4 linked regions of the Homo sapiens genome follow. The protein of the gene in region 4 interacts with the protein of the main gene of each other region in a pairwise test. Each region holds a gene or a part of one and is shown on either strand. Other genes may lie near its edges.

What was found.
Region 1: the proteins of PTK7 (region 4) and DUSP19 interact in a two-hybrid assay, tested with the Homo sapiens proteins (one study listed by BioGRID and IntAct).
Region 2: the proteins of PTK7 (region 4) and MTMR9 interact in a two-hybrid assay, tested with the Homo sapiens proteins (one study listed by BioGRID and IntAct).
Region 3: the proteins of PTK7 (region 4) and PPP3CB interact in a two-hybrid assay, tested with the Homo sapiens proteins (one study listed by BioGRID and IntAct).

What each region holds. Positions count from the first base shown.
Region 1 is NC_000002.12:183,095,747-183,102,412, forward strand, and holds the end of DUSP19 (dual specificity protein phosphatase 19), read left to right. Parts: 3' UTR 1-4,262; downstream 4,263-6,666.
Region 2 is NC_000008.11:11,322,816-11,328,646, reverse strand, and holds the end of MTMR9 (myotubularin-related protein 9), read right to left. Parts: 3' UTR 501-5,831; downstream 1-500. UniProt on the Homo sapiens protein: Acts as an adapter for myotubularin-related phosphatases. Increases lipid phosphatase MTMR6 catalytic activity, specifically towards phosphatidylinositol 3,5-bisphosphate and MTMR6 binding affinity for phosphorylated phosphatidylinositols.
Region 3 is NC_000010.11:73,471,036-73,479,939, forward strand, and holds part of PPP3CB (serine/threonine-protein phosphatase 2B catalytic subunit beta isoform), read right to left. Parts: exon of another isoform or gene 8,815-8,904; intron 8,483-8,814; coding exon 8,282-8,482; intron 7,589-8,281; coding exon 7,464-7,588; intron 6,177-7,463; coding exon of another isoform or gene 6,123-6,176; intron 3,996-6,122; coding exon 3,884-3,995; intron 579-3,883; coding exon 433-578; intron 175-432; coding exon 35-174; intron 1-34. UniProt on the Homo sapiens protein: Calcium-dependent, calmodulin-stimulated protein phosphatase which plays an essential role in the transduction of intracellular Ca(2+)-mediated signals.
Region 4 is NC_000006.12:43,078,457-43,087,360, reverse strand, and holds part of PTK7 (inactive tyrosine-protein kinase 7 isoform a precursor), read right to left. Parts: intron 1-8,904. UniProt on the Homo sapiens protein: Inactive tyrosine kinase involved in Wnt signaling pathway. Component of both the non-canonical (also known as the Wnt/planar cell polarity signaling) and the canonical Wnt signaling pathway.

The sequences.
Region 1 (6,666 bases), on a different chromosome or scaffold from region 4:
AACTCCCTTTTTTCTCTTGCCTTTTTTATGCATAAATGGAGGTCAATTTGATTGTCCTGACCTACTGTATAAGTAAATTTCAAATGTCATTACTTTCTCTTTGTTATTATAATGTGTGATTAAATGCTTTTTTAAATTGCTAAGGGAAAATAACAAAGTGTTAGTAATCATTGCTTTCTGTAGAAGAAAAAGGTTTAAATTTAAAATGTGTATTTAGAGCATGGAGAGAATCATTTAATGAAGCCTATTTTTCTGTTCCAGCAACTGTTTTTATGAAAGAAAAACTTGAAATGCTACTTAACTTACTATTTCAAAGGGAAGTATATTTCTTTTTAAAGAATCTTTTTAAGATTAAAAATGAATACCTTAAATCTCCCAAAAGAGATAACCAGTATCTGAAGGTTTATACAATATTTACACAGTGGCTACAATATTCACAAAATTCTTATGTTCTCTTATGAAAAATATACACTTTTCATTTTGTCTTCTTCTTTTTTTTTCTTTTTTTAGATGGAGTTTGGCTCTTGTCACCCAGGCTGGAGTGCAATGGCGCAATCTCAGCTCACTGCAACCTCTGCCTCCCGGGTTCAAGCGATTCTCCTGCCCCAGCCTCCCATATAGCTGGGATTATAGGTGCCTGCCACCATGCCCAGCTAATTTTTGTGTTTTTAGTAGAGATGGAGTCTCACCACATAGGCCAGGCAGTCTCGAACTCCTGACCTCAGGTGATCCACCCACCTTGGCCTCTCTAAATACTGGGATTACAGGCGTGAGCCACTGCATCCGACCTCATTTTGTTTTTTTCAATTCTGTTATCGGCATTTCTTTCTTTTTTTTTTTAATGTATAGGTGTTCTGTCATACGTTATTGTGAGCTTTGGTTCTTTGAACAGGTGATCTATTCTCTTACATTTTGTGCTTTTTATCTTGGGTGCCTAGCATTCTGTTTTTTTGATCCTATGTCATAATTTTTTGAGAAAATGTTTGATACTGCAAGATCATTGTTTAGTGGTCTGTTTTCTACTTCAGTATTCTACCAGAGAACATATTTTTTAGGGGAGAAGGGTTATGGTTTTGTAAGAAACTTTAAATATACTTTTAGGAGACCCACAATCATTTACAGTTTTATCTTTGGCCTTTGAATAGGTTCTTTTTTCTTTAATGTCTCCGTATTTGAAGAACTGAGCTCTGTACATTATAAATTTGCTTAAAGATTTTGATTTTTTCTTCAGAATATGGTATACTTAAAATTAATTAATTAAGACAGTTTCTTTTTTCTTTTCTTTTTTTTTTTTTTCGAGACAGGGTCTTGCTCTGTCACCTAGGCTAGAGTGGAGTGGCATGAACACAACGCACTGCAGCCTCTACCTCCTGGGCTCAAGCAGTCCTCCCACCTCAGTCTCCTGAGTAGCTGAGACTACAGCTGTGCGCCACCACATCTGGCTAATTTTATTTTTATTTTTGTAGAGACAGGAGTCTTGCCATGTTGCCCAGGCTGATCTCAAACTCCTAGGCTTAAGTGATCCTCCCGCCTTAGCCTCCCAAGTGCTAGGATTACAGGCATCAGCCACCACGCCTGGCCTGATAGTTTCCACATAGTTTTTCATGACTTAGAAGATATCATTGCCATGTAGGTTTTATTTTTAAAAGTCTTGAGCTCTTCTTAAATATACATTATAAAGAGCAAGCATAGATGGAAAGTGCATATTGAACACATCTGTGCATTTGAGAAGGCAGGCTTTCATATGCTGTCATGAGCAAAAAGTAGAAGTGATAAATGCAAGTTATGTTTTGAGATTGCTTACACCGTGACAAGATGCCATCACTTGTGATGTTATGAACTGTTATAAACTCTTTGCTTCTGCTAAGAAGCAGTCTAAATATAATCAACGTACAGTGAGCTCTTTGAAGCCAACCAAGGCAGGCAGAACCCTCTTAAATATGAGACTGATGTATAGGTTCTCTCTATGGTCAGTATCACTGGATAAGCCTTCTCCTTTCATAAGAAAGGATGTATTTAAATACATTTTATTTTGCTAAATCCTGTTTAGTTTTCAGCCATTAAATGTCACATGAAGCCTTGATAGAATTTGTTCATAATGGCTCATGTATTATTATTATTTTTGAGATGGAGTTTTGCTCTTAATGATATTATTATTATTTGAGACAGAGTTTTGCTCTTATTGCCCAGGCTGGAGTGCAGTGGCGTGATCTTGGCTCACTGCAACCTCTGCCTCCCAGCTTCAAGCGATTCTCCTGTATCAGCCTCCCAAGTAGCTGGGATTATAGGCATGTGCCACCATGCCCAGCAAATTTTGTATTTTTTTTTGGTAGAGACAGGGTTCAACCATGTTGGTCAGGCTGGTCTCGAACTCCTGACCGCAAGTGATCCACACGCCTTGGTCTCCCAAAGTGCTGGGATTACGGTGTTAGCCACTACACCTGGCCTGGATTGTGTATTATTTATGTCTGTAGTTTATATGCTTAGTTGTTGCCTATAGTGATCTGGGTAAGATTCAAACATTTATCTTTTGTATCTTCTACAGAAGTGCTTTGAGCATCAAATTTGTTTTAACGTTAAATTGTAGTTTGCTGTATTAAAATAGATCAATGAATATAATTCAGTCTTTTAGGGGCACCAAGTAAAGCATAAGGTCATATATACTATACAATATGTTTATTGCACTTCCCATGGGGATAAATCACTCTGTCATTCCTAGTTATTTTAAAAAAAGAACTTTATGATTACGGTCCTCTTTCTCACATACTGCAAACTTAAAAGATACATACACCAAATATAGGTCTGTTTTAAAGGAGAGGAAAAATAGTTCAAGGAGTTTTTGCCTCTTTGTTTTTCAATAGATTATTCTGCCATTTTTTAAAGGAAAGGGAAAATGAAAACAGCATGTCTTTTTAAACATTGAAAAGAAATATGGAGGCTTTAAACCGCAAACTGAAAAAGCTGAGTAGAACAAAGGCAGTGGAGCATACAATACAATTCTATTTATTTGAGGTTAATTGAAGTTAATAATTTTTAAATTTTTTTCTAATTTTATGCCTTAAAATAGGTTTCTGATTACATAAAATTTGAATAGAACACTCAAGAAGTATGTAGATTTTTGAAAAACCCAAACAATATTCTTCTTAGATTTTTGGAGGCAAAATTTAGACCAGTATACTAATTCAAAAGACAAATATTTCAGAGGAAGTGGAGTACAGTATTTAACATTTTGTTTGCAATTTTACTTTTTCTTCCCTTCTTCCCTATTGAACCTTGATTAAAATGTATGAATACAATACTTGGATTTTTTTTTTTCAGCTTAGACTCTGATAATTTCAGTGGTAGTGGGGAAACCTGAATTTGTCAGCATGATTATTTGTAACTCAGATTGTTCAAATGTATATAGAAGGTCCCCTTCAAGTGTTGTTTCTCCAAGTAGTCATAAATGTAGCAAGTATAAATCAGAATATCATCTTATAATCTTACAGAGTTAACCTAATGAGTCAATACCTTTATAAGCAAAACCATGATAAATTTAAAAACAACAGAAATGTGGCATGATTACTTATTTATTTGTTCCAGGTGACTCTAAATAGTTGATTTTTCTGCCTGAAGGATCCTGAACATATTTAGTTACCCTGTAGTTATTTAGGAATTTAAACCAGAAGACTTTGAAGTTGTATATTCTTGCAATGCATAAAATGACATTATAATCAACAAACTTATGGTTTGTTTCAATTGATGCACACAAAAAATAACTTATAGTTAGACTTTTCTATTTCAAGTAAAGCTTTGAGTTACTTGTTTTTATACATATTCATCATGTACCCTTTATTGTTTCTAGGTGTTGATATACTTTAATAAAAATGATATGTTTAATATTTTCCCATTAATATATTTCTTTGAAGCTATTTGTTTTAAAAGATGTAACACTTATTTGCTGTCAAATTCTGAATTAAAAAATCTGTTGGTGGCCAGGCGCAGTGGCTCATGCCTGTAATCCCAACATTTTGGGAGGCCAAGGAGATGGATCACTTGAGGCCAGGAGTTCAAGACCAGCCTGGCCAACATGGCAAAACCCCATCACTAAAAATACAAAAATTACCCGGGCATGGTGGTGGGTGCCTGTAATCCCAGCTTCTTAGGAGGCTGAGGTAGGAGAATTGCTTGACCCTGGGAGGTGGAGGTGGCAGTGAGCCGAGATAGCACCACTGCACTTCTAGTTGACAGAGTGAGACTCTGACTCAAAAAAAAAAAAAAAATGTTGGGAAGACACACAATTTTATATTTTAAAATGTAAGTTAGTTTAGATCTATGAAGATTTGTTGTTCCCGTCTCTTCAAGAAATGAAAAGCCGGCTGGGTGCGGTGGCCTGTAATCTCAGCATTTTGGGAGGCCGAGGCAAGAGGATCACGAGGTCAGGACTTCAAGAGCAGCCTGGCCAATACGGTGAAACCCTGTCTCTACTAAAAATACAAAAAAAATTAGCTGGGCGTGGTGGCACACGCCTGTAGTCCCAGCTGCTTGGGAGGCTGAGGCAGGAGAATCGCTTGAACCTGGGAGGCAGAGGTTGCAGTGAACTGAGATTGCGCCACTGCACTCCAGCCTGGGTGACAGAGCGAGACTCTGTCTCAAAACACAAAAGAGAAAAGCTAAAGTAAGAGCATATAATTGGCATCACTGTGGACAGATTGTCAATGAAAATTCAATAGAATACCTTATTTAAGGTAAGAGAAGATGCTGAGTTACTGTCAGATTAAATTACCCTACATTCTAACTATGACTGCATTGAGATTATTTGTACATAGTGTGGCACCCACCTCCCACGCTCATGCAAACAGGCTGTTATATCTTTGTAATAGTTATTTTAAAATGTACAATAAATTATTGTTGACTGTAGTCACCCTGTTGTGCTATCAAATACTAGATCTTATTCTATCTAGCTATATTTTAATACCCATTAGCCATCACACTTCTTCCCCTCATGCCCCCACTGTTCTTTCCAGCTTCTGGTAACCATCATTCTACTGTCTATCTCCATGTGTTGAACTGTTTTAATTTTTGGCTCCCACAAAGGAGTGAGAACATTTGAAGTTTGTCTATCTGTGCCAGTCTTATTTGACTTAACATAATGTCCTCCAGTTCTATCCATGTTTTTCCAAAGGACGGGATCTTATTCTTTTTTATGGTTGAATAGTACTCCATTATATATATGTACTACATGTTATTTATCCATTCATCTGTTGATGGACACTTAGGTTGCTTCTAAATCTTGGCTATTGTGAATAGTGCCGCAATAAACATGGGAGTGCAGATATCTCTTTGATATATGAATTTCCTTTCTTTTGGGTATTTATCAATGTTCATCAGGGATGTAGGCCAATAGTTTTCTTTTTTAATGTGTCCTTTTGATTATTATTATACTTTTAGTTCTGGGATACATGTGCAGAACTTGGGGGTTTGTTACATAGGTACACATGTGCCATGGTGGTTTGCTGCACCCTTCAACCTGTCATCTAGGTTTTAAGCCCCGCATGCGTTAGGTATTTCTCCTAATGCTATCCCTCCCCTTACCCCCCACCCCTCGACAGGCTCCAGTGTGTGATAATCCCCTCCCTGTGTCCATGTGTTCAGCTCCTACTTATGAGTGAGAACATTTGGTGTTTGGTTTTCTGTCTCTGTGTTAGTTTGCTGAGAATGATGGTTTCTAGCTTCATCCATGTCCCTGCAAAGGACATGAACTCATTCTTTTTTATGGCTGCTAGTATTCCATGGTATATATATGCCACATTTTCTTTATCCAGTCTATCATTGATGGGCATTTGGGTTGGTTCCAAGTCTGCTATTGTAAATAGTGCTGCAATAAACATACATGTGTATGTGTCTTTATAGTAGAATGATTTATAATCCTTTGGGTATATACCCAGTAATGTGACTGCTGGGTCAAATGGTATTTCTGGTTCTAGATCCTTGAGGAATCGCCCCACTGTCTTCCACAATGGTGGAACTAATTTATACTCCCACCAACAGTGTAAATGTGTTCCTATTTCTCCACATCCTCTGCAGCATCTGTTGTTTCCTGACTTTTTAATGATTGCCATTCTAACTGGTGTGAGATGGTATCTCATCGTGGTTTTGATTTGCATTTCTCTAAAGACCAGTGATGACAAGCTTTTTTTTCATGTTTGTTGGCCGCATAAATGTCTTCTTTTGAGAGGTGTCTGTTCATATCCCTTCACCCACTTTTTGATGAAGGTTTTTTTTTGTTTTGTATATTTGTTTAAGTTCCTTGTAGATTCTGGTTATTAGGCCTTTGTCAGATGGCTAGATTGCAAAAATTTTCTCCCATTCTGTAGGTTGCCCATTCACTCTCATGGTAGTTTCTTTTGCTGTGCAGAAGCTCTTTAGTTTAATTAGATCCCATTTGTCAATTTTGGCTTTTGTTGCAATTGCTTTTGGTGTTTAGTAATGAAGTCTTTGCCCATGCTTATGTCCTGAATGGTATTGCCTAGGTTTTCTTCTAGGGGTTTTATGGTTTTAGGTCTTACACTTAAGTCTTTAATCCATTTTGAGTTAATTTTTGTATAAGGTGTAAGGAAGCGAACCAGTTTCAGTTTTCTGCATATGGCTAGCTAGTTTTCCCAGCACCATTTATTAAATAGGGAA
Region 2 (5,831 bases), on a different chromosome or scaffold from region 4:
GGCATTGCCTAAGTCAATGATTACTGTAATAATATGCCAAATAGTGGCTTTTTAATTCCATTTTCTTTCTACATTTAATAGCTGGCATTCTACTCTAAGAAAGAGCTTTCCTTTTACCCTCAATGAGTCATGTGTTTATATTAATACATACTAAATCAATAATATGTAGAATACATATTCCTAATTCTTGGGAGATTCCTGTGAAGTATTTAGAAGACAGGGTCACAATGTCTGCAGCTAACTCGGATGTTTCAGCAAAATAACAGTGTAACAAACACACACACACACACACACACACACACGTGGTATTAAAGCAAATATGGAAAATTTTACCAATCATTCAATATAGGAACAATCTAGGGAGATCAGTGTACTATTTTGCAGCCTTTTTGCAGATCTCAATTTTTTCAAAATGTAAGGTAAAAAATATATAGATTTAATTGAAACACCATCCAAACCTTCACCAATATTTGAAAAAAAAATTCAAATAAGCCCACAGATTTAATTTATTAGCACTTAAATATATTCAGATTTTATTACCATCGTCTATAGAAATTTAACACTAGCCATCTGTGCAACTGTCCTCTGAGGCAGAGGAACACCATACGCAAATATTACACACTAAGAACAGTACCACATTCGACAAGACTCTTTCTTGATTCAGTAAACCAAGCTTGACAAACCGGCCAACCCAAGGTGAATGATTACAGTTATAGGGTACAGGGGAAATTATCACCTAGTGAATATTACAAACAATATTAAAATGTTACACAGACTTACAAAAGTTCTGCTTTTTTTTTTCCCTAAGACTGTATGTATATGTGTGTGTGCGTACACAGGTTCACAATATGGAAACCTGTACCTTACAGCACTCTTGAGGTTTCAGCAAAGCATACATTATAGACATATTTGCCATACAGTGCAATTTTATTGTATAAGCCATGAATAATAGTGCACTTAAATCCAAGAGTCACATTCAAATATTATCAAGAGAACAATCCAAATACCCGGCTATTGAAGAAATACACATTCTTTGTTTTTATAAACTAAGTTCTGCAACTACAACATTTTTTTGTGTAGATGGTATTAGATCAGTAAGGTTTTAAACAATGAGATTTAGGGTGCATTTTGTAGAATAATTCACCTCTCCAAAGATAACGTGCATTTTAAAAGTGAAGCAAATGTCTTGGCCAGACAAACACAGGCAGTGTTGTACAACTCAGTTTTATTACAAATCACAAATATAGTTAATCCTTAGACCTGCAGACGGTTAAAGAGAATGGCTCTAGAAGTCAGTAAACTCTCATCAGAATTACTTTGCAGGACAATGTAGTGTTTACAGTGAGCCTCATTATCTTCCACTAAATTGGGCACAAATTACTGTTCCACAGTGTAGTTCAAGAGCTGGAACATTAAGTTTCTTAAAAAGGATTTAGATAACAGGTTCAGGCATTTTAATATCCAGTCCTAGAATTTCAGAGGGTCTCTTCTGGGACTATTGGTTTAAAGGAAGATGCTGTGGACAGTGGATTATAAAGACCAAATGAAGGTAGAAGTAATTTTATTCAAGAAAATAAAGAAAACTGATACCATAAGAAAGTTATAGTATCAGTATATATTTTATCATCTGAGAATAAATGTAAATGGATAAATGAGTCTTTTTTTTTTTTTTTTTTTGAGATGGAGTCTTGCCCTTTCGCCCAGGCTGGAGTGCAGTGGTGCGATCTCGGCTCACTGCAAGCTCTGCCTCCCGGGTTCACACCATTCTCCTGCCTCAGCCTCCTGAGTAGCTGGGACTACAGGCGCCCGCCACCACACCTGGCTAATTTTTTGTATTTTTAGTAGACATGGGTTTTCACCGTGTTAGCCAGGATGGTCTCGATCTCCTGACCTCATGATCCGCCCGCCTTGGCCTCCCAAAGTGCTGGGATTACAGGCGTAAGCCACCATGCCCAGCCTATAATGTTTTTAAAGATGATGGGTAACATAAAAATACTATGTGGTAATAACTTAGAATACTAGGTCTGGAGGAGGAGAACAGGCCTAGCCCATGTGAAAGAATAAGCAGTAGCTAATCTATGTGGTCTTGAGGTATAGTATAAACCTGGAAAGTTCTCTGAACCTCTTCAGTTCTGAGGGTTGCCCAATTAAAACAACAACAACAACAACAACAACAAAACTTTATCAGATGTACTGAATGACTTCATTCTCTGATAAATTTCAAAGCTTCCAGAACAGAGGATCAACTATTGTAACTATTGCCCATTTCTGGTCCAGGAAATACCTTTCTGATAAAGAGTGCTCATAAAACGCTTGTGTTGTTTTCATTCATTCTATCTAGAAGTGGGCAAATACCAAAACCTTTATCCCAGATTAAGGTCGGATAATAAGTGAACCTGATGACCTACTTTAGAATGACAATTCAAACAGCTATCCCTGAAACCAGACAACTACACGAGTTATGCCTTGAAGCAGATCTTTCAAAGTGCAACGAAACATTACTCCTGTTTTTCACTTGAGGAGACTAAATTATGGTCATATCTTTTCCATGATACTGATTTTTTATTTAACATAAACCAAATACTGACTGAATCAAAGACTAAAACCCCACAAAATTTCATCCTTTAAAACAAAAAGCAATAAAATCCCACCCCTAAATCAGGCCTCAAAGTTCAAAGAAATGTTTAAAAATCCCCCATATGGGATCTGACATGAATGTCTATTATTGTCCCCCCCAAGTCTTCTCAAAAATCACTTTAAAATCTTGCTTTGAGACCCTAAGTTTTCTTGGAAATAAAATACATTTATAGATTGTTTTAAACCTACTGAATTTTACTATTTCTGCTTGCTTTCTTCCCATTTAATAAAATCAAAATAAAAAATTTTGACCAAATAAATATTTATTGAAAGGTCCTGCCACCAAAAAAGCTTCAGGTTTTTAAAAACATATAATCAAACAACAATGTTCTTCTGATTAAAAAAAAAAAAAGTACTTATTTAAATCTGAGGATCCTTATATGTTCAATAGAGGATTGTGGTGATCCTTTGTATTTTAAAAATATTATTTGTGGGGCCTACTTTACGTATCTCCTGTATAAAAACCAGCTTTCACTCCACATGAATAGAGAAGATGCTGAATACGCAGGAATCTGATTATCCCTCACGTGATTATTACCGGCCCCTCTGGGGCAATCTGCTTGCTCACTCATTCTGCCACCATTCTCTTCATTCAAGTGTTTAACAGCACATTTATCAAAGGCAGCTCTCCGATGCAATGTTTAACGAGTGTCTTCTCAGGAGTGTATCCGTGTCATTTATTCTTCTCATCCAGGTAAGCACGAACTTCACAGTACTACTAAAAATCTTCTTCAAATTATATTGATAATGGACTTATTTCTGACCGTTTTTGGATTTGGGAAAACTCTAATATTTGGATTACCAAATAACACTTCTGTAGATGCACTGATACCGAAGTTTATTTTTACAACCTGTAAACAGATCTGAAGTTTGAACAATCCCTAATTATAAATTAATACTAAAATGCAAACTTGCCAAAACAGTATAGATTGTTGTCTCAGTGAGACAGAGAAAACGAAATGCGAATACCGTGTTATGACTGTACTCTGGCTCGCACAGCAAATGTGCATCAGGAAGATGGGTCTACCTTGATGGTACATCATCCCTCCATGACCAGACCTAATACAAACTCCCTCACAAGTTTCCACCCATGGAAGCCCTATGGCCGATCAACAGAAGCAGTGGGAGTCACTTCTGGCTTTTTCTTTACTTAGACACAGGGTCTCGCTCTGTTGCTCAGGCTGGAGTGGACTGATGCGATCATAGCTCACTGCAGCCTCAACCTCCTAGGCTCAAGGGATCCTTCTGCCTCAGCTTTCCTAGTGGCTGGGACTATAGGCACACACCACCACACCAGGCTAATGGGAGTCACTTCTAAAGAAAACTCTCTAGATGGTTTTCCTTATATGCCTGTTAGCTGAGAAGAAAAGCCTCCTTCATATACAATCTTGAGACAAAAAGAGAAGAAAACAAAAAGCTCAGCTGTATTAACAGACATAGCAAGCAATTCTGAGGGAGCACAAAAAAGTGAGGCTGTTTCCTTTTTTTTTTTTTTTTTTTAACAAAACTAAGATGGACATTTCACACAACGCAGAGCTACGAGAACATCTCTTATGCTCCTTGCCATGGGATTTTAATGCCCCAAGGTTCATAACTACAGCAAAGAAAGTAAGTCAAAAATAAACTGAGCTTAAAGAAGGTGGCAGGCCAATTTTCCCAAAAAGACTGTGGACTGTGGGCTGCTGTGTAGCCTTTGCTACAAGGCTGAGGAAGCAGAAGAAAGATGAATTGGGCAATTGGTGATGAAAAGTATTTGCCATTTTCAAAGGCTTCTCAGTGTGGCCATAGATTTTGCTAGTCAATTTTTAAAAAATTATATTTTTAGCTCAACACACAGCTCTAAAGCAGGGTTCAGTGTAGTGTGTTCTCTACCGAAATGGTTATATACAGATGGTATGGAAATGGTTTTAAAGATTACTCATAAACTATCCTTTTAAAGAAAAACTAGACTCGGTCATATTTGTTAAAATGAGCAATGTCACCAAACAGAAATGTAGGTGGGAAATACTGAACCACAAACATTTGGAGTTGCAGGCATAGACTAGCAGAGCATGAATAGTCATCACTGTTTCTATAATACTGAAACACTCAAATCTGTTTCTGAGGTTTAAAACACAGAGCTATATTATATTCATAAACTTCCCCCTCCACTTAAGTTATATTTGCCTAACACATAATGGACAAATCAATAGAGCCAAAGCAAATTTGCAAAAGGCTCAGGTCAACATGAAAATTTTAACCTTAGTATTAGGAAACTCTTAGAATACTTACAAATTAAAAAAACACACAATAAAACACACATACACATATAAACCAGTGCAATAAGAACTTTAGACAAGGGCAGTGCATCTCTGGTTTAAGAAAACCTATTTGTAGCTTGATTATAATAAATTAACTCTATTCTAGATGATGGTTTAATTTTACAAGCAGCATTTGAAACACATTGTATATGTATGCTCAAAACCTGAAAACCAATTCACCAGTAACAATTCTCAATCAGTAACAAATTCCTACTTTAATTGTATATTGCACATACTTTTAGTGTCTACGTTAAAATAAATTTAACTCTTCTTAATGTAAATATCGGAGGACCATACCTGTTGCCCTTGTAGAAATAATTTACCTTGAATAACAGATTTTCCTTTCTTGACAAACAAGAATGAGAATAGATTTCAGCTTCGTTAGTCCAAAACTATTTTAAAGAAAATGGCTATTTTATGTGGCGAAGACACTGGAAATGGATTGTTAAACACAAAATCCTTGGTTTATCCATTGTTGCCATTTTGAAAAACATTTCTATGGTCAGAGTGTTTAAAAGTCTGACCCTTTTTTTAAACCACCAAATAGTCCCTAGAGAGATTAGCTGTCTCCTTGACTGCTCTAGAATGCTGTTTGGAGAGTGGACACAGAGAAAAAGCTTTGGATAAAATGGCATGAAACACAAATGGCATTAAATAGGTCATCTATTTCACGTAAAAATAAAATGACTAGCACCTCCTTCCGGCTCCCAAAGTGACAGGCCCTAACAGGCCACATGAAACATGGTTTATGATAGTAAGTTTCATTATTCATACAGTATTGAGAAATCCATTACATTAGGGGGGTCCCACATCTAAAGCCTTCACTTCAAGGCTACCGTGTAAAAGTGAACTGAAGGGCACAAGGAGAGAACGGCGGACACAGGCCCAAGAAGG
Region 3 (8,904 bases), on a different chromosome or scaffold from region 4:
TAAAATGTGATTAATCTTGGATATTTTTCCTTACTTATAAAAATAAGAACATCCTCGAACTGTATTGTGACTAAAATGTTCCTGTGATTTTTCATTTCCAAAATCTTCAGAAGGATCGGACCATAACAAGTCACACATTGGTCCAAATGCAGGTGGCTCTTTGAATCTATCTAACTGTGAAAGAAAGAAAAGAAAGAACAGAAGTAACTCATCAAAAAGTAAGGATAAAATGTGCATAGGAAAACGATACCAACTTTGAATACAGTTCATACTATATTATTGTGAATAAACAGAAGTTATTTCCTTAAGATATCAGTATACTAATTTTTACTATTACCTAATCTTGGCAGTGAAGTGAAGTTTGAAACTTCTGCTCTACTCAACAATGTACTATAAATAGAAATCAATCTCGGAAGTAAAATATATACTTACTCTCCTAATATCATCCAGTGTGTGTATTTCTGGTGAAAGTCCACCATGAACACAAAGAAACTGTTGGTTTAAAAGTGCAGCAAGAGGCAAACTATCAAAAGCTTCCATACAAGCTTCATAGACTCTTTCCGAATACTTAATTTTACCTAGAAAAACAAAAAACTAATTGAAAATTACATTACTGGTGGTGGTGTGACCATTTTAAAAACATATATATTAGATTTTTATTTCTTGTTCTCTCCCCTCCTTTATATCTTATAGCTATTTATAATGAAATTGAGATAGTTACAGTTTCAACTGTAGTAATAGCCCAGACAGACAGACAGACAGATGGCAAGAAAATTATAGACAGTAAACAGCAAAGTGGTGGCCAGGGCTTCAGAGTGAGTGAAGGGGTGACTATAAAAAGGTAGCAAGAGAGAACTTATGGCATGATAAAACTTTTCTGTATCATGATAGTGGTAGTGGGCAACTCTATGCAGTGTCAAAAGTCACAGAAGTAAATACCACAGAGAATAAATCTTACTGCACACAATTTTTTTAAGGAAAGCATCTTCCCCTATAAGAATCAACAAAAATATGCAAAGTTATCTGTCTTATGAAGACAAAATATTTGCTCTCTCTAAAATTATTCTCGATGATGTTATGTCTTATGAAGCAAAATATTTGCTCTCTAAAATTATTTTGGATGACAGAAAAGTCATCACGTATTGTTAAAAATAAGTCAGTCAAATCTCTAAAAACAGGCCAGGCACGGTGGCTCACGCCTGTAATCCCAGCACTTTGACAGGCCAAAGCAGGCAGATCGCTTGAGGCCAGGAGTTTGAGACCAGTCTGGCCAACATGGCAGAACACTGTCTCTACTAAAAATACAAAAATTAGCCAGGCATGCTGGTGTGCACCTGTAATCCCAGAGACTCAATGGGTGAGGAACAAGAATCACTTGAACCCAGGAGGTGGAGGCTGCAGTGGGCCGAGATCGTGCCACTTGCACTCCAGCCTGGGCGACAGAGCAAGACTCTGTCTCAAAAAAAAAAAAAAAAGAAAGAAATCTCTTAAAAACAGCTCAACCCTTCACCTTTATCGGCCAAATAAGGCAAAATTAGAACTGTACTTGAGGTTAAAATCATTTTAATACTTGCTTTATTTTATTCTAAGAGTCAATGACTACTTTATTCTTATTACAGGCAAGATGACTACATCATCACAACAAAATTCAAGGTTCATCCATTTTTTCTGAAAAATAAAAGATAATAGCATGCTCATGTCAGAAAAGCTGAGGGGTTCCTCTTGCCTACAATGAATACTTTAAAATGGGCAGTGAAGCAGGAAGCCAATATAGAAACACAAGAAAGACAAAACTCTACCAAATCAAACTATCATTTACTTTTAGAGAGATATCATGCACTTTCATTTGCTCCTTTACAACTTTAAATTCCTATTTTGGTTTTGATGAGATTTTGGTAGGTGGTTTGTTATTTATCTAGGCAAAGAAAAAGAACTTAGTTCCTATTTCCTGTTTTAATACTGTAATATTCAAATATTAAAAAAACTATATATATATCCAGCAACCAGAGATTCTACACTGGCAGTCTGCTAACGACTCTGTTTTCTAGCACTGTGGTTTAATAAAAATTCTAATTTGACTGCTTTTAGGTCAAGCATGCACTTTCCAGGTCTTATCTTACTCATTTAGGTTAACTGCCTGATCCTTGAAGTTATAAGAGTATGCCACTTCTGCCACTACCCATCACTGTATTTTTCTCCTGTTGCTGCAAGTCTCTACTTAGTATGACCTTTATTGGATCATGTTTTGAGTCTCAAAACGTTGAAATTATTTCTGCTTTTAGAATTTAACTCTACTTAATACAGTCATAAATATTAACTTAAAAAGCACAAAGGCAGGCCAGATGCGGTGGTTCACACCTGTAATCCCAGCACTTTGGGAGGACGAGGCAGGTGGATTACTTGAGGTCAGGAGTTAAGAGACCAGCCTGGCCAACATGGTGAAACACCGCCTCTACCAAAAATACAAAAATTAGCAGGACGTGGTGGCGCATGCCTGTAATTTCAGCTACTTGGGAGGCTAAGGCAGGAGAATACTTGAACCCGGGAGGAGGTTGCTGTGAGCCGAGATTGTACCACTGCACTCCAGCCAGGGCGACAGAGCGAGACTGTCTCAAAAAAAAAATAAAAATAACAAAAATAATAAAAAAGCACAAAGGTTTGAGGTGTGAAAAAGGCCTAATCTTGTTCTGTAACATATGGTTACTTACAGGTATTAGATTACCATTGCTATAATAATTTGAGAGAGAAAAGGGATAAACATTGCAGGTTAAGAATTTCACCAACTGTACCTGACTAGTCTTAAAACAATGATATTTAAAAAAACAAAAAAATTTTAAGAAGAATTTCAATCATTAATAGCATGATTGAAATGATCTGCAATGGTAACAGGATAAACAATTTGTTAGGATTCCTCACAGGAATGCCTCAAGATTGAAGGACAAAAATCTCCAATGCAAAATAACATTTTTTTCTTTTGGTTTTTATTTTTTCCTGTTAGAAAAAATATATACATTTTTTTTTCCTGAGACAGAGTTTCGCTCTTGTTGCCCAGGCTGGAGTACAATGGCGCGATCTCGGCTCACTGCAACCTCCGCCTCCCAGGTTCAAGTGATTCTCCTGCCTCAGCCTCCTGAGTACCTGGGATTACAGGCACATGTCACCACGCCTGGCTAATTTTTGTATTTTTAGGAGATGGGGTTTTGCCGTGTTGGCCAGGCTGGTCTTGAACTCCTGACCTCAGGTGATCCACCCGCCTCGGCCTCCCAAAGTGCTGGGATTACAAGCGTGAGCTACCGTGCCTGGCTTAGAAAAATTAATTGTAACATTAAAACTTATATATAAAACTCTAAGTATGTTTGTAAAAGTTAAACATAATAAGAAATTCTGAAATGAAAAAAAATTTTTTTTTTTGAGACAGGGTCTGACTCTATTGCCCAGGCAATTGTCCGTGCAGTGGCATGATCTCAGCTCACTATGACCTCCGATTCCCAGGCTCAAGCGATCCTCCCACCTCAGCCTCCTGAGCAGCTGGGACTACAAGAGTGTGCCGCCACACCCAGCTAATTTTTTTTTTTTGTATTTTTGGTGGAGATGGGGTTTCACCATGTTGGCCAGGCTGGTCTCCAACTCCTGAGCTCAGGCAATCCCCCTGCCTGGGCCTCCCAAAGTGCTGGGATTACAGGCGTGAACCACCATGCCCCACCAAAAACTTCTTAATACCATTAAACACCAGAGAGTGCTCGACAACTTTCCTCAAAGCTTTATGTGTGGACATGAAATCTGTCCTTACATGTTGCACTGTAAAGTCTTCAAAACTCTTACTACCCACTTAAGTCCAAAAGAATACTGAGGAAGTGAAAACATTTCTTCTGGCAGTACTCACATTCCTGCTTAAAGGTAAAATATTCAGTAAGGTGTCTGCATTCATGGTTGCCTCTCAGAAGAAATAATGTGCTTGGGTATAGAATCTTCAGAACCCATAAATATAAGACACACTGCAAAAGAAAATTTTTCTAGTGAATTTATCTTGTACTTTTGTTTAATGAAGCTGCTTGATCTTTGCTCCTTTTCCTCTACTACCCTTACCATCCTCTATTATCTTTCTTTGTCCCTTACTAAAATATAAGCACCACAAAATCACAGATTTTGTCATCTTATTCACTTTTGATTCTCCACTCCCAGAAGAGTACCTAGCAAATAGGAGAAGAGCAATAAATATTTGTTGAATGAATGAGTCAAACAATCTATTTAATTACTTTGGATTTACAGACTGCCCAATATAAAAACAATTAGCACACTGGTCTACAGATGCGTATTAGTAAATAATACTGTCAAAATAACAGCAGCTAACATTTATTAAGTACTTACAATATGTGAAGCACTATATAATTCCCCTAATTTATTCCTCAAACAACACTATGAAGTATGTAATATCATCTTTATTTTACAAATGAGAAACTGAAGCAAAGATCTCAAGTAACTTGTCCAAAACCACAAAACTTCTAAGTGATGGAGATAGGATTCTGATCCTCTGATCTTAAGCATTATGCCATGCTGCCCATGAAGGGAAGGTCCATGTTTTATGTTTGTTTCATTGATTATGAATATTGCCTTACATATGGTAAGTGCTTATTATCTGAACTAATTCAATGCAAATGTAATTTTTCAAATAAAAATATTATTAAACATTATAGCAGATGCTATTCTCTAAATAGATTTAACATAAGAAAGAGACTCACATTTTACTTATTTGCTTAAAAAAGGAAGAAATATTTGATATGGAAATAAGCATGGTTTATATAATCATATGCAAAAAGAAAAAACAAACTTTTTTATTTTTAGAGACAAGGTCTCACTGTCACCCAGGTTGGAGTGCAATGGCACAATTACTGCTCACTGCAGCCTCGACCTTCTGGGCTCAAGAAATCCTCCTACCTCAGTCTCTTGAGCAGCTGGGACTACAGGCACATGCCACCAGGCCCAGCTAAGTTTTTTTTTTTTTTTTTGTGGAGACAGGGTTTCACCATGTTTCCCTGGCTGGTCTCGAACTCCCAGGTTCAAGCAATCTGCCTGACTTGGCCAACCTGTGCTGCGATTACAGGTGTGAGCCACCACACCCAACAAAACTTTATTGTTAATAAATTAAGGTATATCTAAACATGTAACTATTCATATCCTTCATTTTATTCAAAAGGGAAAAAAGTAATAAAATCAGGGAAATAATCTGTTCTCGATGCTTATTTTGATTCTTTGTTATTTTCCTTTTATAACAACAAAATGTATTAAAGGAGTCAGCTACATCCAGGCGCAGTGGCTCACGCCTGTAATCCCAGCACTTCGGGAGGCCGAGGCAGGCAGATCACCTGAGGCCAGGAGTTCGAGATCAGCTTGACCAACATGGCGAAACTCCATCTCTATTAAAAATACAAAAACTAGCCGGGAGTGGTGGTGGGCACCTGTAATCCCAACTACTTGGGAGGCTGAGGCAGGAGAATCTCTTGAACCTGGGAGGCAGAGGTTGCAGTGAGCCGAGATCACGCCACTACACTCCAGCCTGGGCGACAGAGTGAGAGTCCATCTCAATTAAAAAAAAAAAAAAAAAGAGTCAGCTGCAAAACAATCTTACACAAGGACATGCACACCAACTTAGTTACCAAATAAGCTTCATAAAACTGTTTATTTTATTGTTTTGGTCAAATGCCTGAAATTTTTTTGTTAAAATGGGCCATTTTCTGATTTGCCTGAAGCCCTGTGACAATTTGGGAAAAGTTGACGAGGCTAATAATCAACTATCAGCAGGAGGAAGAAGAACTCAAAATAGCAAAATTCCTAAGGGAAGCAGGACAGACAGAGTCTAGAACTTCCTTCCACTCTGAGAATCCTAGCACACCTCAGAAAAAAAGGTATATTGGAAACACTGGAGAAGGAGATATAAACAACAGTAACCAACATAAATTCACCAGGTAAGGTTTCAGTATCTACTAGGGAAGGTGGTTAAAAGCATATGCTGGGAGTCACATTGCCTGGCTATGCTGTTTACTAATAATACCTTGGGCAAGTTACTTAACCTCTCTAAGCCTCAGGTTCCTCATCTATAAAATGAATAAAACAACAGTACTTACCTCATTAATATTATTGTGAGGATTAATCGATATGTCTTCAGTGCCTAGAACATGCTTAGAACATATTAAATGTGCAACACAGGTATCTATTGGTAGAAATTTGACCCCACAATTCTACCTCTAGGAATTTGTCCTACAAAAATAATCAGGCAAGTATGTAAAGATGTATGAATAATATGACTCATTAAAGCATCATTTGTAAAGAAAAAAACTGGGAACATCTTCAGTGTCTAACACAAGGAATTAATTAATTATGGTTTGTTTATTAGATGGAAAACAATGTAGATATTAAAATGATGCTACGAGTTTATATTTACTGACTTGGAAGGATATTTGGTGTAGGCATGTATGAAAAAGCAAGTTACAGACAATATTATAATATGATCCCCTTTTCATTAAAAAAAGAAAAAATGTATATATTGGAAAATACATATTGTTCTACATTTGCTGCATTTTGTTTATATAATTTAAAAAGATGGCAGGGCAATGTGGCTCACATCTGTAATCTCAACACTTTGGGAGTCCAAGGCAGGAGGATCACTTGAGCCCAGGAGTTCAAGACCAGCCTGGGCAACATAGGAAACTCCATTGCTACAAAAAAATTAAAAATTAGTCTAGGCATGGTGGTGTGTACCTGTGGTCCCAGCTATTTGAGAGACTGGGACAGAAGGATCCCTTAAGCTCAAGAGGTCAAGGCTACATTGAGCCATGCTGGTGCCACTGTACTCCAGCATGGGCCACAGAGTAAGACCCTGTCTCAAAAAAAAAGAAAAAGAAAAGAGAAAAAGGAAGAAAAGGAACCATCTACTGTTAAGTGATAATCAAAAGGTCATTTTAATGCCTCAAGTTTTTAAAAACAAATTAATACTTTCCAAATACACAAAGATTCCATAGGATATACTTGAGTCTTAATAGCTACACAAGGAGAAACAGAAGCACTAGGGCTCAAGCAATAAAAAAATCACAATATACTTTATTTAATCAGACAGAATTCAAGTAATCTTTTTTCACATGGTTTAATGCCTTTAGGGGCAAGAGAGATAAATAGCACTAAATTTTTAAGGCCACTAGTTAACAGGGCAATAAAGACCCCTCAGTCAGCTCATAAATTCCACTGGGAAAAAAATGGCAATTATAATTATATAAACAGAGTTATACAAAGAAATTTATTTGAATTGTTTGAAAGACAGAACAGGAATAAATAGTAGCTTTTCATAAAAACTTCAGAATATGCAGAGTTATTAAAAAAACCTAACACAGGTACTTGTGAAAACTAGGATTAAGTGAAAGCATCTGTGTTAACACTTAACAGCAAATCAAATGACAGTTTATGATTATTACCTCTATACTAAAATAACCTCTGTCCACATAATCGCCAAGAAAAAGGTATCGTGTATTAGCAGGTGATCCTCCTACTTCAAAAAGTTTCATCAGATCAAAAAATTGGCCATGGATGTCACCACACACTGAAACAAGAAGATTATTAGATAAGGGAAAAAAATCTCTAAAACAACAAATTTTACTTAAGTTAAAACGTATTTTACATAAGACATAGTACAAATGCTATCAAGAAATGTCTGAGAAGGAAGTAGTCTATGAACAGTCATGATTAGGATGATGTGTAACCAAGTGTTCATGTGCTCAAGATCTAGAAAAAGATGTAACAGAAATAACGAAATTTGTGGTCAGTGACAAACTGAAATCTACATTTATAAAGATCGTCTCTAGGACTCCAAGGATGTGTTTTAAGTTTCAAGATGACAAAATTACAATGGTGGCAGTTAAAATATCCATTCTAACTCAATACTTTCTGTTGCTCTCTAAATGGTCACTTTTGGTATCTGATATGACATCAAGGTATTTGACCCTAACAATTGAAAGCAAAGTAAGTATTGATCAAATTGAAGTATGGTCAACACAATTGATGAAACCTTCACAAAAGCATATTAGACTAACTTCTACACTCAGATTATTTAGAATCATGTCTATTCACTGAAAACAGGCAATCATTTTTAAGTATGGAAAATAATTTGAAATTCAAGATAATGTCCAAGTAATATTGATTTAGCATACAGTATCATTGAAAACAGTAAGTTGTAAATCCAGGCAACTAAATAATGACATAATAAAAATAATACCCAAAACATGAATAAGCTTACCTGTGATTGGAGCTTCTACTTCTATCATGGTTTTCTCTCTCCGAAGGATGGCAGCACCCTCATTGATAATTCTAAGCGCAATTTCTTCATCTACTCGACCTTCTTTCACCAAGTGGTTCTTCAGAACATCAACCCTGGGTATCCCATCCAAATCAAATACTTCTTCAGATGTCAAGCGATGTGTTGGGGGGAAAGGGACAGCTGCAAATGTTTTTAATTAATAAAAGATAAGTCACCAAAAATACATTAACTTAAAAACTAATAATTGGATCTAGATAAGACTAAAAACTGTAAAGCAGGGATTTTTCTTTCTTCTTCATTTATTGGGTAGAAGTGTTTTTCTAAATAGTAAGCAAATTATACCACTTTTAAAGCTATTTATACTAACATGTTCTTTGTTGAGAATTATTAGAGAAATGAGTTGTCTCACAAAATTAAGTTCTTTCAGGATAACCAAAACTTTTTTGTTTAAGCCAAAACATTTTTAGGCAGAACTCTCAAAATATTGTATTATAGTATTAGATATTCTTTACCTTAAATGAAGTACAATAAATATAATTTAATGCTGGGAGTAGTGAAGCATGTCTGTAATCACGACTACTTCGTAGGCTGGGGCAGGAGGA
Region 4 (8,904 bases):
TGTGAAATAAACTCTGCGGCCCACTCTTCCCAAGGATTCTGCCAGCCTTCCACACCAATTATCACATAAGGCTAGGAGCCTGTATCTGCAAGACAGCAAAATCCTCTCACAGGGAAGGGGCCCAGAAATAGGTCAAGACTTCAGCAGCCACAGATATACAATGTGGGGTGGGTACAGTAATGGGGCTCCACCCTCACCGGCTTCTCCTATTGTATGTTACAGGCAGGATTGCCCCATCCCACCACCATAGGAGGCAGAACAGTAGTGAAGAGGGCTCACTTGAAACATGACTTTAGAACAGAGGCATCAAAATCATCTTGGCCCATCAGCTGGGAAACAAAGAGCCACAGCTGCAAGGCCTTCATGCCAATGGAACAGCCACCTTTGACTGTACAGGTTGTGCACTGCTCAAGATGTCTGACCAAAGAGTCAACACTGAAATACTGCCTGAACCCTGGTGCAGGACTGCATCTACCTGGAGGAAGGGTTTTTTTGTTGTTGTTTTTTTGTTTTTTTGAGATAGGGTCTCGCTCAGGTGCCCAGGCTGGAGTGCAGTGGTGCAATCACATCACAGCTCACCCACTTCAGCTCTGACCTCCCAGGCTCAAGCAATCCTCCTGCCTCAGCCTTTGAGTAGCTGAGACTACAGGCGTGCACCACCACACCCAGCTAGTTTTTTTGTATTTTTTGTAAAGACAGGGTTTCATCTTGTTGCCTAGGCTGGTCTCAAACTCCTGAGCTCAAGTGATCCACTTGCCTCTGCCTCCCAAGTGCTGGGATTACAGGCGTAAGCCACTGCGCCCACGACTGGGAGTACTTATTTGTAATGTGCACAAAGGTACCATACGAGCTAGCTGCTGGGACACCTCAGCAGTCCCAAAGCAGACAAGCGTTCCCCTCATTGCCCCGCCACCACCCCAAGGAGGAGACAAAAAAAAAAAAAAGCCAGAGTGTCTCCTGGAGGGGAGGTTGTACATGATAGTGCCCATGCGGGCCCCCATAACCACCCCCAGGGAGAGCCCACTGCCCTTGGCCACACAGAATCTCAGGAACCTCCCCACAGCACAGACAGAAGTTCCCACAAATTAACAGAGTCGCTGACTGGGGAAACCCCCACAGTCATCCAGTGATTATAAAAACCCCTCCCTTGGGTATCATAAAAGTCTGCCTAGGCTGCCTGAAGCACAGTTCACTACCCACTCCCTGAGAACCTCAGCATGCCAGGAGAGACAGTGGCCCTGAACCAGCACCAACCCACCCCTTGGGAGAATCTGCTATTGAGACAAAGAGAGAGGGAGAATTCCCACCAGGAAAATGTGGCTGTGTGTGGCTCCCACATTTCTGGGCTGCTGTTGGAATACTGAGACCCATTTAGAAAACTTGTGCTTTTGAATGAGGAAGCCATGTTTTTTTTTTTTTTTTTTTTTGAGACAGAGTTTCGCTCTTGTTGCCCAGGCTGGAGTGCAGTGGCGCAATCTCAGCTCACCACAACCTCGGCCTCCCGGGTTCAAGCGATTCTCCTGCCTCAGCCTCCTGAGTAGCTGGGATTACGGGCATGCGCCACCACACCCGGCTAATTTTATATTTTTACTAGAGATGGGGTTTCTGCATTTTGGTCAGGCTGGTCTCGAACTCCCGACCTCAGGTGATCCACATGCCTCAGCCTCCCAAAGTGCTGGGATTACAGGCGTGAGCCACCGCACCCAGCCCAAATGAGAAAACCATTTCTAAGGCTGCTAGTCAAGAGGGACTTTGTTGAGCCTTTGGCAAACCATTCTAGGGTCCGAAGGCTGGAAATAAAGGCTGACACCTCTGGCCAGGCACAGTGGCTTATGCCTGTAATCCCAGCACTTTGGGAGGCTGAGGCAGGTGGATCACGAGGTCAGAAGTTCAAGACCAGCCTGACCAATATGGTGAAACTCCGTCTCTACTGAAAATACAAAAATTAGCCGGGCATGGTGGCGGGCACCTATAATCCCAGCTACTCGGGAGGCTGAGGGAGGAGAATGGCGCGAACCCGGGAGGTGGAGATCGCACTACTGCACTCCAGCCTGGGCGACAGAGAGAAACTCCATCTCAAAAAAGAAAGGCTGACCCCTCAAAAGGAAACGGCTGGCCAGGACAGTCTCTGGGAAGAACCATCAGGGCTAGCCAGAGGGGCTGCTTCCCAGGGGTCACCCATTTCCACAGTTGAAGAGCATTATATCACAACTTCACAGGGGCCAGCAAGGCAGGCAACAGCATCACTTGCATTGTGCTCACGAGGAAACTGAGGCTCAGAAAGGTTAACTAACCAGCTCAGGGTCATGTGGGTATGCAGCAATTGAGCCAGGACCAGAATACAGAAAAACTGGTGTCACAGGTCTATAGATGTCTCTTCTATTACTTCATCACTTGTGGCTGCCATGTGATATTAGAACAGTACCACCCAGGTTTTCAGAATCCTGGTCCGATGACTTTACATCATTCTGAGGCCGTCACTGACTACATCTATTCATCATTCTGAGGCCGTCACTGACTACATCTATTCAGCAATGTAGGGTCTTCTCTCCTCTCTGAAGCCCTCCCACCCCCTATTTGCTCCTACATCTCAGACTTACCATCCCACACATTCTAGAATGTTCTTCTATTCTACTTAGCACTTTACCAAATGGTGTCTTTCATACTTCATCTGATTCACGTTTCTCCATCTTGTCTTCTTCCTGCATTCCATGCCTCCTCAGACAGCTTCACCCATAGAAGACACTGAAGCACTTTGAATGAACTCCCTCCTAAGCCCCCCACTATTAATATCACCCTTTTTCTCAACACCACACCTCCGCTTCAGACTGATAAATTCTCCTTATGGCTACCCAGTGGTTCTCACACTTAAGCGTAGGTAAGAATCTCCAGGAAGCTCTTTATAAATGCAGTTTCCAGGCTGGGCGTGATGGCTTACGCCTGTAATCCCAACACTTTGGCAAGCAGAGGCAGAAGGATAGCTTGAGCCCAGGAGTTCAACACCAGCCTGGGCAACACAGCAAGACCTCGCCTCTATTAAAAATAAAAAATAAATTTAAAAAACTAGCCAGGTATGGTGGCATGCACCTGTGGTCCCAGCTACTTGGGAGGCGGAGGCGGGAGAATCACTTGAGCCCAACAGGACAAGGCTGCAGTGAGCTGTGATTGCACCACTGTACTCCAACCTGGGTGACAGAGTGAGACCCTGTCTCAAAAATAAATAAATAAAAATTAAAATGCAGTTTCCTTTTGAAATCTGGCCTATGTAACTGGATCAGCTATTCAAAAACAGCAACATAATCTAACAAATAAATAAAATGCATTTTCTGGCCTCTCCCTCAATAATTCTGATGGGCAGGTCTGCAGTAAGGCCCAGGAAACTAAACTTTTCATCAATACTTTGGTGACCTGCCCTATACTCTCCACTCTAATTTGAGAAACACATATCTACACCTTCCTAATATGTAACTTACAATCCCTACCCTGCGACTCGGGACTTTGTCTTCAGAAATTACATACACACCTAAACCTGTGAGTGCATATCCCGCTTATCAAGGCTTACACTTCTAACAGGGGCTTGGGATCTGCAGGACACCTGGTGGATGACGTTCTAGTCACCTGAGCGTTCACTCAACACATACCCCAGTTAATGCACACAGCAGATGAGAGTTTAGCAATGTAAAACCAAGTTGCGAGAGGGGAAAGGCGCCTGTGTGTGTGTCAGCCCTTCGAACCAAGCTTCCTCCCTGCCCCACTGCTGTCTGTGTAACATTATTGGGAGGGAAACGGCCTAAATGCAGAGAAGAAAAGAGGATGGAAAAAGTGACATACTACAGAGGGCTTCCTCAAACCGCTGATTAGCTGTGGCATCTCTCAGGCCAGCTCCACCAAAGCGCCAGGGGGCTCAGCAGTGAACTCAAGAGAATTCCAACATAGGACTCTAACCAGCTACAATGGCAGGACTTTCACACCCTCAGAAGAAGGACCAGGCAGATGGGGGCCAGAGCAGGAATCAGGAGAAGGGCAGGCGGCAGCTCCAGGGCAAGGTGAGGGCCAGTGCCAGCAACTGTGGCCCCAAGCCTGTAACCCCACCACGTGGCTCTGGCCAGGGGTAGTGCCCAGGCACAGCAGCAGAGAGGCATCTACTGAGGTTAGGGAGAGCAGGAGGTTGAGGGACACAGGCCAAGGACACCCAACCTTGTTTAATGACCCTTTCTTCCATCAGGAAAACACCAAAGACTGAATCCTTGGCCCCAAACTGCTCTTGGCTCCAACACTAGAGTCTGAACCGGCCAACCTCTATCCCAGACGAGTCTCACAGAAGCTGCATTGGCTTAAACACAGACTCACACAAACCCCCTCACTCCAGAATATGAAATGCTCCAAAGACTAACAACACTACAGCTGTCAAAGCCCAGCGGAGACATGCCTCCCTTTATGAGCCAAATGTATTCCTGAAAAGTTGTCTGTCGACCAAATTTCTGCCTAACAAATCCAGTTTCTCCACTGGCTTTCGTTATAAAATCAGCCGTATTCTCCTCTAGGAAAAGCTGAGGTTCTGAGAGGAGCTAAACATCAGGCTGAATATTGCAGACTTCCTAGAGTCACACATTTAATGGAGAAATTTCTTGACAAAATCTAATTCAATTTAAACCCAAAGGAGGTAATATTAAAGCGTACACATCACCCCAAGGAGTGTTCGCATAAAGTGAGTTATTTAAAGCAAATCTTCAAATACTGTGCAGCATCTCAGCTCCCAATTTATACTGTTGCAACAGGAAAGCTCTGTGCCTTGAGATTCTGTATAAAGAAGGATGCCTAGGCCAGGACTTCTGGAACTCTGGGGTACAGAGTCACCTGAGCATCTTGTTAAAATGCAGATTGCAGCAGGGCACGGTGGCTCACGCCTGTAATCCCAGCACTTTGGGAGGCTGAGGTGGGCGGATCATGAAGTCAGGAGTTCGAGACCAGCCTGACCAACATGGTGAAACCCTGTCTCTACTAAAAATACAAAAAAATTAGCCTGGCGTGGTGGTGCGCGCCTGTAATCCCAGCTGCTCAGGAGGCTGAGGCAGGAGAATCGCTTGAACCCAGGAGGTGGAGGTTGCAGTGAGCCAAGATCGTGCCACTGCACTTCAGCCTGGGCGACAGAGTGAGACTCCATCTCAAAAAGAATAAATAAATAAATTGCAGATTGCGATTCTGATTCATGCTCCCAGGAATGCTGATGCCACGTGGCCCTGGGTCTTTCTTCAAGTAGCACAGTTATAGATACTCTAGGCCCCTACCCAGTTCTCTGAGGAAGCAACTTTAGCACCAGTTTTTAAGTTGCAGTCAGCTTCATACGTAGCGGTGCTTACCCACGCACAGAACTTGGAGAAAGCTAGAAGACCCACCACATCAAAACTGAGAAAAACCACCACCAAAACCAGCCAGCCCAGGATCAGGGAAGGAAGGTCTGATCCTTAATTTGGTCACCGTAGAGCAGGCGCAAGGAGGAACAGGCAACCCCAACTCAAAGAAGCTGGGGAGGGTGCAAAAGACTCCCCATGCCTAGGATGCAAGGGGATATTTAACTCCACCCTTGATCATTCTGCCCTGCACCCAAATGGTTCATTCACTTTTTAAATAAACCTATATGAGGACCTGTTATATCGGCTGGGTGCAGTGGCTCACGCCTGTAATCCCAGCACTTTGGGAGGCTGAAGTGGGCAGATCACCTGAGGTCAGGAGTTCGAGACCAGCCTGGCCAACATGGGGAAACCCCGTCTCTATTAAAAATACAAAAATTAGCTGGGTGCAGTGGCACACACCTGTAAACCCAGGTACTCAGGAGGCTGAGGTAGGAGAATCACTTGAACCTGGGAGGTAGAGGTTGCAGTGAACCAAGATCGTGCCAATGCCTCCAGCCTGGGAGACACAGGCAGACTCCATTTCAAAAAAAACAAAAACAAACAAACAACAAACAAAAAAACCACCTACATAAGAACCCATTATAAATAAGTACTGTACTAAACTCTATGGGAGAGCCCCTCAGTAAATTAAAACAAAACCCAATAGGGGCAAAAATATGGATGGTGTCGCAAGAATGACAGTCCAGAAGTTCTACAGTGTCTACCTTCTGGCAGGAGAGATAGGACAGCTTCAGGGAAGAAGAGGCGGTGGGGCTGGGCAACAGAGAGACAGGAGAAGGCAATGTACAACCGGGGACTGGCCCGAAGGAAAGAAAGGTGGGAGAAAACCAGATATGTGTTAGGAGATGGCAAATATTCCAGCTGGACTGGAATGGAGGGTCCCAGTAGGTAAAATGTCTATTGTTGGGAATGACTGTAAAGCTGAAGGAATCTTTGAAGCACACCACAGAGGGAAGACCAAGAAAGGGCTGTGTGTGTGTGTGTGTGTGTGTATTTTTTTTTTTTGAGACGGAGTCTCGTTCCGTCGCCCAGGCTGGAGTGCAGCGGCGCGATCTCGGCTCACTGCAACCTCCACCTCCCGGGTTCAAGTGATTCTCCTGCCTCAGCCTCCTGAGTAGATGGGATTAGAGGTGTGTGCCACCACACCCAGCTAATTTTTGTATTCTTAGTAGAGACGGGGCTTCACCATGTTGTCCAGGCTGGTCTTGAACTCCTGACCTCAGGTGATCCGCCTGCCTTGGCCTCCCAAAGTGCTGGGATTACAGATGTGAGCCACTGCACCCGGCCTACTTCATTATACTTAATCCTCAGCACAACTCTAGGATGTCCCTTTATAGAAGAGGCTGAGAAGCTAAGAGGTTCATCCAGGGCCACAGGGCCTGCCAATGAGTCTGAGTTGCTGCTTTGCCAGATATACTCCTTATCCCTGGGCTCCACATCCCTCAACAGAGGATCAAAAACACTGGGGGAAGATAAAAATTAAAAACAATACAACAATAAAAAAGAATACAAATTAAAGAATACAACAGTTATTTACATAGCATTTCCATTGTAATAGGTATTACAAGTAATTTACAGATTTTTTTGTTTTTTTTGAGACAGAGTCTCGCTCTGACACCCAGGCTGGAGTGCAGTGGTGCAATCTCGGCTCACTGCAAGCTCTGCCTCCCGGGTTCACGCCATTCTCCTGCCTCAGCCTCCCAAGTAGCTGGGACTACAGGCGCCTGCCACCACGCCTGGCTAATTTTTTGTATTTTTAGTAGAGATGGGGTTTCACCATGTTAGCCAGGATGGTCTCGCTCTCCTAACCTCATGATCCGCCCACCTCAGCCTCCCAAAGTGCTGGGATTACAGGCGTGAGCCACTGCATCCTGCCCTTTTTTTTTTTTTTTTTTTTGAACTCTGTCACCCAGACCGAAGTGCAGTGACACAATCATGGCTTACTGTAGCCTCAACCTGCTGGGCTCAGGCAATACTCCCACCTCAGTCTCCTGGGCAGCTGGGACCACAGGCACGTGCCACCATGCCTGGCAATTTTTTTTTTTTTTTTGTACAGGTGGAGGTCTCATTGTGTTGCCAAGGCTGGTCTTGAGCCCCTGGGCTCAAGCGATCCTCCTCCCTCTGCCTCCCAAAGTGGTGGGATAACAGGCGTAAACCTGGCCCTTAGAGATGATTTAAAGTATACAGGAGAAGCTGGGCATAGTGGATCATGCCTGTAATCCTCATACTTTAGAGCACTGAGGCAGGAAGACTGCTTGAGCCCAGGAATTTGAGGCTTCAGTGAGCCAAGATTGTGCCACTGCACTCTAGCCTGGGTGATAGAGGAGACCCTGTCTCATAACAAAACAAAACAAAAGTATACAGGGAAGTTGTGTGTACGTTATATGTAAATACGACACCATTTTATATAAGAGACTTGAGCACCCTTGGATTTTTTTTTTTTTTTGAGACGGAGTCTCGCTCTGTCACCCAAGCTGGAGTGCAGTGGCACGATCTCGGCACGATCTCGCCCAAGCTGGAGTGCAGTGGCACGATCACTGCAAGCTCCACCTCCCGGGTTCAGGCCATTCTCCTGTCTCAGCCTCCCGAGTAGCTGGGACTACGGGCACCCGCCACCACGCCTGGCTAATTTTTTGTATTTTTAGTAGAGACAGGGTTTCACCGTGTTAGCCAGGATGGTCTCAATCTCCTGACCTCATGATCCGCCCGCCTCGGCCTCCCAAAGTGCTGGGATTACAGGCGTGAGCCACCAGGCCTGGCCGCACCCTTGGATTTTGTTATTCTCAGGGAGTCCTATTCCAATTCCCTGCAGATGCCAAGGAAGGACCATACTTTATCTCCATTGCTTGAGCTCTGTCCACCACTCAATGCTGCTCTGAACACCAGGAGTTTGAGTATATCATTTGACAAGTGACAAGAAGAGCACCCTTGCCCTGCCACCATACTTCCCAACAGCTGAGAAAAGCCATCACTAATAAAAGCAACTCCTAGGCCTGAATTACAGGCTGCAGAGCCTTGAGGAATCTGCAGACAGCCTATCCCAGAACATGACGACTCAATTTCCCCAAAGAAACAAGAGCCCGGAGGAAAGAAACCAGGGAGGGGGATGGGAATTGGAATGAGAAGTGACCACAGCTGACTGTACAAGAGGTTGGGGTTAAGAATCCATAGTTTCAAACATCAAGCCTCCTCCTCCTCCACCATATTTATTACAACAGCATCTCAAAGTTTGGAAAGTAACTCTGCCATTTATGGCATAATTACCCAGACTTTAAAATGGTCTAATCCACAAACCTAGCCAGCCTAGGTTCCTTACTCCAGCCTTATTAACAGTGGGATCTCACTACAACTCCAGTTAATTACACAATTAAACAATGAGATGCAAACATCTACTGTGATCTATTAAAAAACCGTTGCCCCTGAAGTCATGCGTCTGGGGGTGGGTTGAGTCCCAGGATTTCACTAGAAGACAGCAGGCGCCTCGGCCTCC